Regions from separate parts of the Homo sapiens genome. Here region 2 is linked to region 1. Evidence: fine-mapped expression QTL. Tissue or cell type: tibial nerve. Region 1 holds a variant in brackets; the other region holds the start of a gene. All regions are shown on one strand. Distances are between the middles of the regions. Region 1 has its middle 12 kb from the start of CCDC196. Region 2 holds the start of GPHN (gephyrin).

The links.
Region 2: it holds the start of GPHN, and the variant in region 1 is fine-mapped to the expression of GPHN in tibial nerve (GTEx, PIP above 0.99).

The regions. Positions count from the first base shown.
Region 1 is chr14:66,473,085-66,475,887 of GRCh38, forward strand. No RefSeq gene overlaps it. Among named protein-coding and RNA genes, the nearest start is that of CCDC196, 12 kb to the right of the region's middle. The variant A/G (reference allele first, on the strand shown) is at 1,512.
Region 2 is chr14:66,506,488-66,509,290 of GRCh38, forward strand. It overlaps GPHN (gephyrin), which reads left to right and starts at 1,660. Exons shown (of 23, transcript NM_020806.5): 1 at 1,660-2,104. The coding sequence starts at 2,041. RefSeq lists silencers at 1,705-1,894, 2,245-2,394 and an enhancer at 2,485-2,644.

The DNA.
Region 1 (2,803 bases):
TTTATAAGAAAAAAATACTTGAAATTGAAAAGTAGGAGTAATATATAGGGATCAAAGTTTGAGTCAATTTTTTTTCAGTAAAATGAACTAGTGATGCAATCGTTCCAGGGATTTAAAAGAGTTTCCTCAAATGTATCTGGGGGATAAGAAACACTGAAGAGAAAATAGGCCTAGTAATAAATGACAAATGAGATGAAATGAGATTTTGAAATAGTTGGGCTACTGAACTGACTTTTTAAATAGATATTTTAACAAGAAAAACAAAAAAGGGGCTAAGAACAGAGAAGGAACAACAGTTGTCAGCAGAATGCTGATAAATAGCAAGCAAGGGAATTCAGTCCTTGCAAAAATAAGGATTTTCCAAATCAGCAAACTTGGGGGATATGCCTTGCCACGGGGGATAAGAAAGAACTGAGTAATTTATATTCTGAATCACATTTTCTCTTACGTTTTCATTCAGCCAGGATAATCAAACCATATTATAAACCCCAGAAACTGCTTTAACATGCAAAACATGCAAAACACCTGGCTTGCATTCTCACTCCTAATATCCTCAGATAATCACACATGCTTTTAACAAACAAATTTAATTATCTACAAATGCCAAGCACTCTAGTAGGTATTACAAATACAAAGAAGCATTAGCACCTTTCCCAAATCATTCCACCCACCTTGGAATTACACTTAGCTTGGAAATCATTCCATTCACCTTGGAACACTCACTCAGTTTTGACCCAGGACCCCATCTGCCCTTCAAAGCAAGAAGGTTTGTTGAAGATCCAATGGCTGCAGGTATATGGTCTACGTTTGTAGTACAGTATGAAATAAAAGAGGATACAAACAAATGGAAGAACATTCCATGCTCATGGGTAGGAAGAATGAATATCATGAAAATGGTCACACTGCCCAAGGTAATTTATAGATTCAATGCCATCTCCATCAAGCTACCAATGTCTTTCTTCACAGAATTGGAAAAAACTACTTTAAAGTTCATATGGAACCAAAAAAGAGCCCGCATTGCCAAGTCAATCCTAAGCCAAAAGAACAAAGCTGGAGGCATCACGCTACCTGACTTCAAACTATACTACAAGGACACAGTAACCAAAACAGCATGGTACTCATACCAAAACAGAGATATAGACCAATGGTACAGGACAGAGCCCTCAGAAATAATAGCACACATCTACAACTATCTGATCTTTGACAAACCTGACAAAAACAAGAAATGGGGAAAGGATTCCCTATTTAATAAATGGTGCTGGGAAAACTGGCTAGCCATATGGAGAAAGCTAAAACTGGATCCCTTCCTTACACCTTATACAAAAATTAATTCAAGATGGATTAAAGACTTACATGTTAGACCTAAAACCATAAAAACCCTAGAAGAAAACCTAGGCAATACCATTCAGGACATAAGCATGGGCAAGGACTTCATGTCTAAAACACCAAAAGCAATGGCAACAAAAGCCAAAATTGACAAATGGGATCTAATTAAACTAAAGAGCTTCTGC[A/G]CAGCAAAAGAAACTACCATCAGAGTGAACAGGCAACCTACAGAATGGGAGAAAGTTTTTGCAATCTACTCATCTGACAAAGGGCTAATATCCAGAATCTACAAAGAACTCAAACAAATTTACAAGAAAAAAACAAACAACCCCATCAACAAGTGGGCAAAGGATATGAACAGACACTTCTCAAAAGAAGACAGTTATGCAGCCAAAAGACACATCAAAAAATGCTCATCATCACTGGCCATCGGAAAAATGCAAATCAAAACCACAATGAGATACCATCTCACACCAGTTAGAATGGTGATCATTAAAAAGTCAGGAAACAACAGGTGCTGGAGAGGATGTGGAGAAATAGGAACACTTTTACACTGTTGGTGGGACTGTAAACTAGTTCAACCATTGTGGAAGCCAGTGTGGCGATTCCTCAGGGATTTAGAACTAGAAATACCATGTGACCCAGCCATCCCGTTACTGGGGATATACCCAAAGGAGTATAAATCATGCTGCTATAAAGACACATGCATACGTATGTTTATTGCGGCAATATTCACAATAGCAAAGAGTTGGAACCAACCCAAATGTCCAACAACGATAGACTGGATTAAGAAAATGTGGCACATATACACCATGGAATACTATGCAGTCATAAAAAATGATGAGTTCATGTCCTTTGTAGGGACATGGATGAAGCTGGAAATCATCATTCTCAGCAAACTATCACAAGGACAAAAAACCAAACACCACATGTTCTCACTCATAGGTGGGAATTGAACAATGAGAACACATGGACACAGGAACGGGAACATCACACATGGGGGCCTGTTGTGGGGTGGGGGGAGGGGGGAGGGGATAGCATTAGGAGATACACCTAATGTAAATGACGAGTTAATGGATGCAGCACACCAACATGGCACATGTATACATATGTAACAAACCGGCACCTTGTGCACATGTACCCTAGAACTTAAAGTATAATTAAGAAAAAAGAAAATAGTTATTTTTAACTTAAAAAGCTTATATATGTTCATTATAAAAAACTTGAAAAACTCAGAAAAATAGAATAATAATATAATCATGAAGAATATTTTGATTTTAATGCATTTTCTTCATCTTCTAAACACGCACATATATACACACATACAGACTACACTGTTCCATATTGTTTTATTTGATGTACTTTGACGTACTCTTTTTATTAAGTATCCTTCCAAATATTATTTTAATGACTCTATTGCATTCCCTTGTATGGATATATCATAATTTATTCATCCATCTCCCTGTTGTTAGAAATTTAG
Region 2 (2,803 bases), 33 kb after region 1:
CCTGGCTTAAATTTTTAATTACTGTCAAAAATACCAGCAATACACATACTAAAAACAAAAACAAAAGCAAAAAAGCCATTAATTTATTTTACCCACTTCAATTCCATCCATCATCTACTTTTAGGCCCCATTATTTAAAATGAAATACATAAGCACGTGAATCTTCAGAGGATGGGTAATTTCATGTTCCAACGGAACAATAAAAAACTCATAATCGGCCAGGCACGGTGGCTCACACCTGTAATCCCAGCACTTTGGGAGGCCAAGGCGGGCGGGTCACGAGGTCAAGATCTTGATCGAGACTATCCTGGCCAACATGGTGAAACCCCGTCTCTACTAATAATACAAAAATTAGCTGGGTGTCGTGGCACGCGCCTGTAGTTCCAGCTACTCGGGAGGCTGACGCAGGAGAATCGCTTGAACCTGGGAGGCAGAGGTTGCAAGTGAGCCGAGATCGCGCCACTGCACTGGAGCCTGGCGACAGAGCGAGACTCCGGATCAAAAAAAACCAAAACCAAAACCAAAAAAAAACCTATCAAAGTGACTTTGAAATTTGTGTATAAACACTGATATACATCTTTTAATACTTTGCTTTTCACTTTTATGCCTCCAGGTTACTACAGCTAAGAAGAGAAAACATATACATATGAGTGTGTGTACACACACACACACGCATATAACTTTTTAAAATTCAGAAGTTGAAAGGTCCAGAACGATAGTAAGAAACTAACGTAGAATAGCCACAGGTGATTAATAACACGTTTCATGAAAGGCACATGGAAATAAATGGCAACAAAAGCTACTTTCATGGTAATCTCACATCCCACGAATACTGAAATGAAAATCGCCGCGGCAATGGACTGTGGTTCAGGTGGAACACGTTCTCGTTCGCTAAGGAGATTGATGCTTTTCATCTAAAAGCAGCGCTCATGGCGAAGAGGCTTAAGGCCACAAAACCGTGGGACAGCAGGAGGAAGAGAAGCCAGGTATCTCCACTCCAGCTGCCCTGCCTCAGACTCCTCAGTTTCGCACGTGAGGATCGTCTTGCAGGCACTGACTGGAGATGGAATCCTAAAGCATAGGTGAAGCGGAAATCCTCCTTCAGGGAGAGCCCACTGAGGAAGCCAGCGGCTAGCACGAGGCAGGACAGGATACCTCCCTCTTCGCCCACGGCGGCCTCTCTGTCATAGTAGCCACCGTTCTGCCACTCATGCAGCTTTCTAAGACACCTCTCGGTTCCCCAGCGCTTTCAGTGGGGCGGCCGGCCATTCCCGAGGGTTGCAAGAGGAGGCCCGGGGTGCTGAGCCAGCCTCGCTGCCCCCGCGTAGAAAGCCGGCCCGCCGGCGAGAGCCAGCCTAAGGCGCGGACAACCAACGAGGTGTCAGGCTCGGCAGGGGATTGCTTCTGTCTGGGGCCCGGCCGAGGTTGCGTTCGTGCCTCGCGCGCACACGCTCCGCGTTCACTCAGCCAATCCGGTGCTACTCGCGCGCCCAGGAGCGATCCGCGGTCCTACTCAGGCTGGGCCGGCTCCTTCCCGCTCCCAATACTCAGCACCCGAGCTCTCACTCCTCCCCTCACTCTCCACGAGTTCCACGCCTAGGGGTGTAGCTCCGCCCTTGTCCCCGAGTCCGCCCCCGCAACCTCCAGAGCGTGTGCTATCCTTTCCTCTCAGTCCTGCCATCTAGCTGCCTTGGGTCTCGCGCTCCGCAGAGCGTTCCGACACTCTCCGGCCTCGTTCTGCCGCCTCCGCGCGCTCTCCCCGTGCGGCCACCGCGCCCCCCAAGCTTGCCTCCTTCTTGCCGGACTTGGGGCCGCGCGCCCTGACTCCTTCCCCTCCCGCGGACCCGCGCACTCCCGGCGCGGCCTCTCCCCCACGCAGGCCACCGTGCACTCTGTGGCCTCCCCCTCCTTCCCCGCTCTCCTCGCGCTTCTCTGGCTCCCTAGCTGTCGCGCTCTCCTCGGCGAGCGCGCTCCCGGCCCGCGCGCTCCGGGCTCCGGTTTCTCCCGGCTCCTGTCAGTGCGGTGACTGCGCTGGGAAACATGGCGACCGAGGGAATGATCCTTACTAACCACGACCATCAAATCCGTGTCGGAGTCCTTACAGGTAACCGGGGGAGGAGGTCTGGGACCTATGAGGCTGCTGTCCCTGCATTGCCTTAGGCTTTTCGCCTGTGGTGGCCCTTCTCTGCGGCCTCGGGAGGAGGGAAGGCTGAAGAAGGGAACCGCGGGGGTGCATTTTACAACCGCTGAGAACCGCCGGAGATTGGGGGTGTTCCCGCGGGTCCCCTCCCCCAGGCCCCAGGAGCCGGGGTCGACCCCGTGGGATGTTAGGCCCCAGCGCCTTCGGAAGCAAAGTCCTGGGCCCCCGGGGACCGAGGGGCCGGTGCGGAGGGCGCTGCGGGGCTCCGCGCTGTCGGTGCAGGCGGCGGGATCCCGGCTCCGCAGTCTGAAGCATGCCGCTCTCGGCTGGCCTGGGCGCATCCTCCGCTAGTGCTCTTCAGAGAGAGGGGGGAATCCCATCTCCACCCCCTTCCTCTCCTTCCCTTCCCCCCACCTGGGCGGCCCCACGCCAGTATCTGTGCTTGCCTGGACGAGACTCAGGTGTTAATCAGATGAAACTGCTCCTCCTCGGGTTGTCCCTCGCGGGCCGGGCGTCCCCTCAGCCACCCATGGGGCACCCTTCGCCTCCCTCGGGGGATGGGGGATCGGCTTGCGTCCGGACCTCGGAAAGTGTCTGCCTTCTGCCTTTCCGCGCAAAAGGCCCTCTGTCTGCCTCGTCGTTTCCTTAGCGAGGACGGGCTGC